Homo sapiens: one gene and its partners. The protein of the gene in region 1 purifies or fractionates together with the protein of each later gene. This does not show direct contact. Each region holds a gene or a part of one and is shown in the gene's direction. Other genes may lie near its edges.

Region 1 (3,653 bases):
CACCGCGCCCGGCCTGTATTTTTTTTTTTGAGACAGAGTTTCACTTTTGTTGCCCAGGCTGGAGTGCGATGGTGCAGTCTTGGCTCATTGCAGCCTCTGCCTCCCAGGTTCAAGCGATTCTCCTGCCTCAGCCTCCCGAGTAGCTGGGATTACAGGTGCCCACCACCATGCCCAGCTAATTTTTTTTTTTTTTTAGTTGGAGTCACTCTGTCGCCCAGGCTGGAGTGCAATGGCACGATCTCGGCTCACTGCAACGTCTGCCTCCTGGGTTCAAGCGATTCTTATGCCTAGGCCTCCCAAGTAGCTGGGATTACAGGCATGGGCCACCACACCTGGCTAATTGTTTGTATTTTCTGTAGGGGTTTCACCATGTTGGTTAGGCTGGTCTTGAACTCCTGTCCTAGGTGATCCGCCTGCCCTGGCCTCCCGAAGTGTTGGGATTACAGGCATGAGCCACCGTGCCAGGCCAATTTTTGTATTTTTAATGGAGACGGGGTTTTACCATGTTGGGCAGGCTGGTCTCCAACTCCTGACGACAAGTCATTTGCCTGCCTAAGACTCCCAGAGTGCTGGGATTACAGGTGTGAGCCACTGTGGCGGGCTACAATTTTTGGTTTTTTTATTTTTTTTGAGATGGAATTTCACTTTTGTCACCCAGGCTGGAGTGCAGTGGTGCAATCTCGGCTCACTTGCAACCTCCGCCTCCTGGGTTCAAGTGATTCTCCTGCCTCAGCCTCCCCAGTAGCTGGGATTACAGGCGCTCTCCAACATGACCAACTAATTTCTGTATTTTTAGTAGAGATGGGGTTTTACCATTTTGGCCAGGCTGGTCTTGAACTCCTGACCTCAAGTGATCCGTCCACCTTGGACTCCCAAAGTGCTGGGATTACAGGTGTGATGCACGGCACCCGGCCAACATTTTTTAAAAAAATTAGCTGGGCATGGTGGTGTGCACCTGTAGTCTCAGCTACCTTGGAGGCTGAGGTGGGAGAATCATTTCAGTCCAGGGCCCAGGAGTTCAAGGCTACAATGAGTTATCGATCTTGCCACGGCGCTGCAGCCTGGGTGACAGAGCAAGAGACCCTGTCTCTTTTTTTTTTTTTTTCACATGGAATTTTGCTCTTGTCCAGGCTGGAGTGCAGTGGCGTGATCTCGGCTCACTGCAATCCCTGCCTCCTGGGTTCAAGTGATTCTCCTGCTTAAGGCTCCCTAGTAGCTGGGATTACAGGCGTCTGCCACCACGCCTGGATTATTTTTAGTAGAGATGGGGTTTCACCATGTTGTCAAGGCTGGTCTCGAACTCCTTACCTCAGGTGATCCATCCGCCTCGGCCTCCCAAAGTGTTGAGATTACAGGCGTGAGCTACCACACCTGGCCTGACCCAGTCTCTTATAAAAAGAAAAGAAAAAAAAAAGGCCGGGGACAGTGCATCATTCCTACAGCCCAGCACTTTGGGAAGCCGAGGGGAGAATCACTGGATCCTAGGAGTTCAAAACCATCATGGGCAACACAGGGAGATCTATTTCTTTTTCTTTCTTTCTGTTTTTTTTTTTTTTTTTTTTTGAGACAGAGTCTCGCTCTGTTGCCAGGCTGGAGTGCAGTGGCACGATCTTGGCTCACTGCAGCCTCCTCCTCCCAGGTTCAAGGAATTCTTTTGCCTCAGCCTCCTTAGTAGCTGGGACCACAAGTGCGCACCACCACACCCAGCTAAGTTTTGTATTTTTAGTAGAGACGGGGTTTCACCATGTTGGCCAGGATGGTCTCAATTTTTTTTTTTTTTTTTTTCCCGAGACAGAGTCTCGCTCTGTCGCCCAGGCTGGAGTGTAGTGGCGGGATCTCCGCTCACTGCAAGCTCTGCCTCCTGGGTTGACGCTATTCTCCTGCTTCAGCCTCCCCAGTAGCTGGGACTACAGGCGCCCGCCACCACACCCGGCTAATTTTTTGTATTTTTAGTAGAGACGGGGTTTCACCGTGTTAGCCAGGATGGTCTCGATTTCCTGACCTCGTGATCCACCCGCCTCGGCCTCCCCAAGTGCTGGGATTACAGGCGTCAGCCACCGCGCCCGGCCCAGTCTCTATCTCTTGACCTCGTGATCCACCCACCTCAGCCTCCCAAAGTGCTGGGACCGTGCCTGGCCAGGGAGATCCATTTCTACAAAAAATTTAAAAATTAGCTGGGCATGGTGGTGTGTGCTTGTAATCCCAGCTACTTGGGTGGCTGAGATGGGAGGATCATTTGAGCCCAGAAAGTAGAGGCTACAGTGAGCTGTGATTGTGCCACTGTACCCAGCCTGGGCCACAGAGCAAGACCTTGTCTCAAATAATAATAATAATAATAGTAAACAAATAAGTTAACAAACTTCAAAATACCTGATTTCTGTTGAATTTGAAATTGTGATGCATTCATTGCTATGCTGATAATTCTTCAATGTCTCTTCTGTTATAGGTAGAATTGGGCTATTTGCTGAAGCTTCTTGGTGGCCCTTGCTAGCCCAGGAAGAAACTTACATTTTGATTTTTTTGTACCATGGCTTTGGTTCACAAATTGCTGCGTGGTACTTATTTTCTCAGAAAATTCTCTAAGCCAACTTCTGCCTTGTATCCATTTTTGGGTATTCGCTTTGCAGAGTATTCCAGTAGTCTTCAGAAACCAGTGGCTTCTCCTGGCAAAGCCTCCTCACAGAGGAAGACTGAAGGGGATTTGCAAGGAGATCACCAGAAAGAAGTTGCTTTGGATATAACTTCTTCTGAGGAGAAGCCTGATGTTAGTTTCGATAAAGCAATTAGAGATGAAGCAATATACCATTTTAGGCTTTTGAAGGATGAAATTGTGGATCATTGGAGAGGACCGGAAGGCCACCCTCTGCATGAGGTCTTGCTGGAACAAGCCAAGGTTGTCTGGCAATTCCGGGGGAAAGAAGATTTGGATAAGTGGACAGTGACTTCTGATAAGACGATTGGAGGCAGAAGTGAAGTGTTTTTGAAAATGGGCAAGAATAACCAAAGTGCACTGCTATATGGAACTCTGAGCTCTGAGGCGCCTCAGGACGGGGAGTCTACCCGAAGTGGGTACTGTGCAATGATATCCAGGATTCCAAGGGTAGGTGAGGCCCAGGAGCCATCGTTTTCTAGTAAACAGGGGTGAACTTCATTGTAGCATAAACTATAGAAGATAGCTTTTGTTTCTGTAAATGAAAACACCTGGCATGTTATATTTGGCACCTCACCTGTGTCTGGGGATAAGTAACTATTGGCACAAGTGTGAAGTGGAAGCACAAGGGGGAAGTGGTTTCTGAGGAGGAGGAGTTAACTTGTTTCTGCGCATTGCTTTGGGCCAGGAACGAGCATTGTTATGTTTCAGGAATCCTGAGAGGTTAGACATTTGAAAGATTTTTGGAGAGATTTTCATCTCCTCTAAAAAAGACCACAACCTCTGTAATGACCAGGGGTTTTGTAGAGTGGATGTAGGGTTAGCCTGTGGCTTTCTTTTTTTTTTTTTGAAACGGAGTCTTGCTCTGTCGCCCAGGCTAGAGTGCAGTGGCGTGATCTCGGCTCACTGCAACTTCCGCCCTCCAGGTTCAAGCGATTCTCCTGCCTCAGCCTCCTGAGTAGCTGGGACTACTGGTGCACACCACCACGCCCAGCTAATTTTT
Region 2 (3,653 bases), on another chromosome or scaffold:
CTGGGATCACAGGCATGAGCCACCACACCTGGCCCCCAAATGCTTTAACAATAATTTTCTTTGGGGCCGGGCGCGGTGGCTCATGCCTGTAATCCCAGCACTTTGGGAGGCTGAGGCGGGTGGATCACAAGGTCAGGAGATCAAGACCATCCTGGCTAAACACGGTGAAACCCTGTCTCTACTAAAAATACAAAAAATTAGCTGAGTGTGGTGGCAGGCACCTGTAGTCCCAGCTACTTGGGAGGCTGAGACAGAAGAATGGCATGAACCCAGGAGGCAGAGCTTGCTGTGAGCCAAGATTGCACCACTGCACTCCAGCCTGGGCGACAGAGCGAGACTCCATCTCAAAAAAATAATAATAATTTTCTTTGGGAAGGGAGTTGAATTAGGGTTGAGGTGGGCTTTAATTTTTATTACTTCACTACTGTTTCATTTTAGTTTTAAAAACTTTTGTGACTTTACAAAATGGGATTTAAAATGATATATACTATCTTCATGTACAGTAGAAAATCAGTTTTTAATAAAATTTTGGTTTACCATTTTCCATCTTTGTGCAGGACATCATGGTGATGTTGGGGCTCCCATAGCTGATGTTATTCTCCCAGGAGCTGCTTACACAGAGAAGTCTGCTACATATGTCAACACTGAGGGTAGAGCTCAGCAGACTAAGGTAGCAGTGACACCTCCTGGCTTGGCAAGAGAAGACTGGAAAATTATAAGAGCACTCTCTGAGGTATAATTTCTGAGTCATTTCTTAGTGATGCTACTAAAGGCATATTTGATATTTTAGCCTGTTAGAATGATTTTCAAAGTCAAGGAAGATGCCAGTCTGAAATGCAGAGATGATTTGAATAATTTCTATAGAAAACATGTATTCAGAAACAGGAATTCAAGGTTACAGTGAGCTCTCATTGCACCGCTGCACTCCAGCCTGAGGGACAGAGCAAGACCCTGTCTCTTAAAAAATAAAGGAACTTGAAATTGGTGCTTTTATTTTATTTTATTTATTTTTGAGACAGAGTTTTTCTCTGTTGCCCAGGCTGGAGTGCAGTGGCGTGATCTCAGCTTACTGCAACCTCCACCTCCCGGGCGCAAGCTTCCTGAGTAACTGGGATTACACGCATGTACCACCAAGCCTGGCTAATTTTTATATTTTTAGTAGAGATGGGGTTTCGCCATGTTGGCCAGGCTGGTCTTGAACTCCTGGGCCTCAAGCAGTCCTCCCACCTCGGTCTCCCGAAGTGCTGGGATTACAGGTGTGAGCCACTGCACCTGGCCTGAAATTGGTGCTTTTATTGTTGAAAATTGTTGACTTGTCTTTTGCCTGAAAATACATCTGTTAGCTCTTTATTGATGTAAAAGTAAGCATCCTGACTTTTAAAATAATAACACATTGTAAACTTTATGTATTTTAATAACAGGTTAGCAAAAACATTTGGATTTAGCATAGTATTGTCTCTTCATTTCATAGAGTCACTAATGTACTGACAGCTGTGAATGAATTAGAATTTTTGATATTTGTGTTCCCTGCTTAACTGCTTCCTTCATAAATGTATGTCTACTAATGGACACCAATAGGTTTTTCAGTAGTGCTGCATTATTTCACCATAGTTACAATTATCTATTATTTGATATTTTTAAGTATTAAAGCTTTTTGTTGTTTTTGGGGACCTGACATGTTGTAGATTGCTGGAATGACTCTTCCATATGATACTCTGGATCAAGTAAGGAACAGATTGGAAGAAGTCTCTCCTAATCTTGTTCGATATGATGATATTGAAGGGGCTAATTACTTCCAGCAAGCAAATGAGCTCTCAAAGGTAACAGCTCGCCTATGAGCAGTTTTCATAATGTTGTATCTACTGGTGTAACAGTACTAGTTTTCCATATTATTGTTGATCTCTTCTTTTTTGTGCAGCTAGTGAACCAGCAGCTTCTTGCTGACCCACTTGTTCCACCTCAGCTAACTATAAAAGACTTCTACATGACAGGTATGTAATTGTCAACATGACTCTGCCAAATACGAAAGGTAAGAAGTAATCAGATCACCTCATTTGGTGTTATAATTCCAATTTGTGATTGATAGTGTTTGCAATTCTTAATCTTTGAAGGTTTTCAAACATTGGAACTAACGTAAGCATATTTTCTGATTCTACTCTAGTTTTTTTGTTTCTGAAATGTAAGCAAAGTTTGAAAATCCAAGCAATTAATAGATTTTAAATATAAAATTTTGCTGTTGTAAGGAAAGTCACTGTGTAGCAATTTATGGTGAATTTTCCAAAGTGGCAAATAACTGCAGGTTTTTCTGAGAATTATAGGTGGAAGAATCAAAACATTTAAATGTGAAACATGTTAAACAGTGCTTCTGATGTAAATTGTTAGGAATGTTTTTAAGGAATGCAGACAAACTGAAACTTGTTTATTGCAGATTCTTAGAACAGTTGATACAACATCTAGGTTATGAGGTAGTTAATAGTTGATAGATTATTTTGACTAATTTTCTATCTAAAAGCACATAGAACTCTTAATTTTTTTATATAGTTTGTATCTAAGATTTTTTAAATAAGTATTTTAGTTAGATAATAAAGATTACCTTCATTGTAAAATAATACCTATGCTCAAAAGCACAACAAAAAATCACTTCTATGGTATTTATCTGCGAACTTATGAACACAAAGAAGGAAACAACAGACACTGTAGTCTACTTGAGAGTGGAGAGTGGGAGGAGGGAGAGGTGCAGAAAAGATAAGTCTTGGGTACTGGGCTTAATTCCTCGGTGATGAAGTATTCTGTACAACAAATCCCTGTGACATGAGTTTACTGGTGTAAAAAGCCTTCACATGTACCCCTGAACCTAAAAGTTTTTTTTTTTTTAAAAAAAGAAAAATCACTACCCTCCCACTATCAAGAAATAACTATAATTATTTTTAACATTTTAGTCACTCTTCCTCCAGGGACATACATATGCATTATACACATATATATTATATTAATTAACTATTGTTATTTATATGTAATTATTACTGTTTACATGTACGTGTGTGTGTGTGTGTGTGTGTATAATTTTTGAGATGAGATTTTACTCTGTCACCCAGGCTGAAGTGCAGTGGCACAATCTTGGCTTGCTGCAACCTCTGCCTCCTGAGCTGAAGTGATCCTCCCACCTCAGCCTCCTCGGTAGCTAGGACTATAGGCGCATACCACCACATCCAGCTAATTTTTGTATTTTTTGTAGAGATGGGGTTTCGCCATGTTACCCAGGCAGATCTCAAACTCCTGGACTCAAGCAGTCCACCCACCTCAGCCTCCCAAAGTGCTGGGACTACAGATGTGAGCCACCACCCCTGGCCTATATATTTTTTAGTGAAACAGAAGGTGAGATTAGGCCTGGTGCAGTGGCTCATGCCTGTAATTCCAGCATTTTGGGAGGCTGAGGGGGGCAGATGGCTTGAATCCAGGAGTTTCAGACCAGCCTGGGCAACATAGTCAGATCTGGTCTCTTTAAAAAAAAAAAAGTGAGATTATTCACTTGGGGGTTGATAGCTTTATTGAAATATAATTCATGTACCCTAAAATTTACTCATGAAGTGGACAATTCAATGTATTTTAGTACATATGCTGTTTTGTAACCTTTTTCAATAATAGTATTGTAC
Region 3 (3,653 bases), on another chromosome or scaffold:
TCCAACCTGGGCAACAAGAGTGAAACTCTTGTCTCAAAAAAAAAAAAAAAAAGTAGATTTTAAGTGTTCTCACCACAAAAAATAGTATGTGAAGTAACGTGTAGGTTAATTAGCTTAATTTAGCCATTCCCCAATATATACATACTGCAAAACATGTTATACACCATATGTGTACAATTTTTACTTGTCAGATTTAAAAAATAATTTTAAAATGAGCATTCGTTTCAGAAAGGTAAGTTAACTGCTATATACACTCAATCACTAACTTGTGTACATTCTTTTATGTACAACACACATATGTATTCTGAACATAAGTTTGTTTTTGTTTTTTTTTTTGAGATGGAGTTTTGCTCTTGTTGCCCAGGCTGGAGTACAATGGCGCGATCTCAGCTCACCACAACCTCCGCCTCCCAGGTTCAAGGGATTCTCTCCTGCCTCAGCCTCCCTAGTAGCTGGGATTACAGGCATGCGCCACCATTCCCAGCTAATTTTTTGTATTTTTAGCAGAGAAGGGGTTTCTCCATGTTGGTCAGGCTGGTCTCGAACTCCCGACCTCAGGTGATCCGCCCATCTCGGCCTCTCAGAGTGCTGGGATTACAGGCGTAAGCTACCACGCCCGGCCTGAACATAACAGTTTTTAAATGTTTTTTTGGGAATAAGCTTACAAAAGATTGCAAAATAAAAATAATACAAAGGGCAGTCTCTATCCTTCACATACAGAGACTTAGCCATTGTTAACAATTCATGCTGAGAATTTATCCGAAATTAAGTCAGACAACTTGCTTTATCTTCTTGCTACTGCATGCACTCTCCCTCTTCTCTGTGTATATGTGTACACACATGGGAAAACACACAATTTGAACTTTTTTTTTTAACTTTTAACTTCAGGGGTACATGTACAGGATGTGTAAGTTTGTTACTTAGGTAAACGCGTGTCATGGAGATTTGCTATACAGATTCTTTCATCACCCAAGTATTAAGCCTAGTATCTTAGTTGTTTTTCCTGATCCTCAAACAACATTTTAATGAAAACTTTTTAAAATACAAAACTAGAAATAGGCATTAATAGCGTTAGAGCAGCCAGATTGTTTCATTTTTAAATTTGCAAGCATTTTTACATGGGTCTTGTCTACCCACTTTTACTTCCTTACTTGCTCCTGCTGTTACGTTCTCTGTCAATTGTTAAATGTGAAAACCAGGCCAGGCACAGTGGCTCACGCCTGTAACCAGCACTTTGGGAGGCCAAGGTGGGCAGATCGCTTGAGTATAGGAGTTTGAGAACAGCCTGGGCAACAAACATGGCAAGACCGTGTGTGTGCAAAAAGTTATCTGGGCATGGTGATTCATGCCTGTAGGCTCAGCTACTCAGGAGGCTGAGGTGGGAGGATGGCATGAGCCCAGGAGGTCGAGGCTACAGTGAGGTGTGATCATGCCACCTCATTCCAGCCTGGGCGACAGAGCGAGACCCTGTCTCAAAAAAAAAAAAAAAACTAGAAACCAAGGAATGATATGGTTCTGCTCTTTTTTCTCTTTCCACTTCTTGTCCTATTAATTATACTCATTAAATATATATGGATTCTTTCACTTCTTTTTTCCCACTGCTACTATCTTATCGTCCCTGTTTCTAATCTTGATGTGCTCTACCTGTAACCTAGTTACATTTTTGAAATATGAATATGATTTTGCCACTTTTCTGTTTGAAATTCTTCTATAGTTTCCTGTCACTTTAATGTCAATTCTTGATCTGGCTTCCATGCGCCACTCTTTTGCTTTCACTTTACAATCTCCTCGGATTTCCCAACATGTTCTTTCCTTTTGTGAATCAGTCCCTCTTCTTGAATGCACTTTCCCACTACCACAATTAATTTTGTTCGGCTCCTACTTAACCTTACCTTTCAAAGTCCAGATCATTTGTCAGCCTCAGCTTCCCTAGAGAGTTCTCCCTAGCCATTTTCTCCCTAGCCATGTTTAGTTCTATTTAGCTGTCTTTCCCTTGTGTTCACATACTTCACTGTTTTTTTCTTTATCTTTGATTTTCTGCAGTTTGAAAATGATATGCCCAGGTGTAATTTTGAGGAACATTTACTGTGCTTGGTGTTTTCTGAACTTTCTGGATCTGTGGTTTGTTGTCTGACTTAATTTAGGATAAATTCTCAGTGATTGTTTCAAAGATTTCTTTAGCTTTCTCTTCTCCTTCTGGTGTTCTAGTACACTTATACCTTTTGTAATTGTTTCACAGTTCTTGGATATTTTATTCTGTGTTTGTTTGTTTGTTTGTTTTTGGTGGAGGAGGTTCCCATCTTTTTTCTCTTTGTCTTTCGGTTTGGGAAGTGTCTGTTGATAATGTCTTCAAGCTCAGGGATTCTTTCCTCAGCTGTGTCCAGTCTACTATTCTTCAGTTCTGTTACAGTGGGTTTTTAAATTTGTTTTATCGCTAGCATTTCTTTTTGATTCTCTCTTCGAATTTCCATCTCTCTGCTTATATTGCCCATCTATTCTTGCATGCTATCTACTTTATCCATTAGAGCCCTTAGTGTATTAGTCATAGTTGCTTTAATCTCTTCATATGGTAAGTCCAGTATCCCCACCATATCTGAGTCTGGTTTTGGTGCTTACTCTCTTAGTTTTACTTGGTCTCTTCAAACTGCTTTTGCCTTTTAGGATGCCTTGTAATTTTTTTTCTTGATAGCTGGACATGATGTACCTGGGTAAAAAAGGAATTATGGTAAATAGGTCTTTAGTAATTTGGTATTAAGATGTGGGAGAGGGAAAGTGTTTTGCAGTCCTATGATTAGGTTCTTAGTCTTTTAGTGAGCCTGTGCTTCTGAACTGTTAACTTCACAAGTGCTTTTCAGTTTTTTTCCTCTCCTTTGGTGGGACAGGATACTACAGTGGGTTGGAATGGGTATTTCCTTTCTCCCACATGGGAGGCTAGAGCAGTTGCATTTGGATATTCCCCAGGCTGGTTAATCTCTGACAAAACCCCAATAGTTTGGGCTGTGCAAAACCATTTATCTTGAGGGCAGGCCTTAGTGAGAATAACGGAATGTTCTGGCATATTTCAAAATGGTTACTTTTCTTCCCCCTTGCCAGAAGCCTGAGGGGATTTTTCTCAGATCTTTACTGGGAGAACTTGGTAGAGCTCCTGGAGTGTGGGGACCCTCTATGATTGGCTCCCCTACAGTTTTTAGGTCTTAGACTTTTCTACACTGAACTTCCAGCAATTTATCATTTATAGTCAAGGTTTCCTACTCTGGTACTGGTTTCCATGGAGGCTTCTGCTCGTGGGTTTCTGCTCTAATAAGGTGTGATTCTCTGTATTTATCTGTCTGTCTCTCCTATTTTGAGGGCAGCAGTTTACCCATGATCTCACTTCTTTGGTGGATCTAAGAAGAGTTGTCAGTTTTTCCATTTGTTTAGCTTTTTACTTGTTGTTAGGAATAAGTGATAAACTCTAAACTTCTCACATGCCATACCAGAAACTGGAAGTCTCCCTTTCCTTTTTGCCCCACATCTTGACAAGCTGATAAGAAAGCCCAAGTGCTACCTTGGTTGACACCAGCAGGAAGTTTCAACCATGCAAGCTCAGGCCTACATGAGGGAGCTCTTGCTCTAGCCCCACCTTCTAAAACCACAAGCCAGTCAGTCAGCCT

The links.
Region 2: the proteins of NDUFAF1 (region 1) and NDUFS1 purify together in Homo sapiens (affinity purification with mass spectrometry; one study listed by BioGRID and IntAct). This does not show direct contact.
Region 3: the proteins of NDUFAF1 (region 1) and TIMMDC1 purify together in Homo sapiens (affinity purification with mass spectrometry; 4 studies listed by BioGRID and IntAct, with this or other methods). This does not show direct contact.

The regions. Positions count from the first base shown.
Region 1 is NC_000015.10:41,395,934-41,399,586, reverse strand, and holds part of NDUFAF1 (complex I intermediate-associated protein 30, mitochondrial precursor), read left to right. Parts: intron 1-2,446; 5' UTR 2,447-2,527; coding exon 2,528-3,100; intron 3,101-3,653. UniProt on the Homo sapiens protein: As part of the MCIA complex, involved in the assembly of the mitochondrial complex I.
Region 2 is NC_000002.12:206,124,877-206,128,529, reverse strand, and holds part of NDUFS1 (NADH-ubiquinone oxidoreductase 75 kDa subunit, mitochondrial isoform 1 precursor), read left to right. Parts: intron 1-557; coding exon 558-733; intron 734-1,685; coding exon 1,686-1,820; intron 1,821-1,918; coding exon 1,919-1,991; intron 1,992-3,653.
Region 3 is NC_000003.12:119,505,045-119,508,697, forward strand, and holds part of TIMMDC1 (complex I assembly factor TIMMDC1, mitochondrial isoform 1 precursor), read left to right. Parts: intron 1-3,653.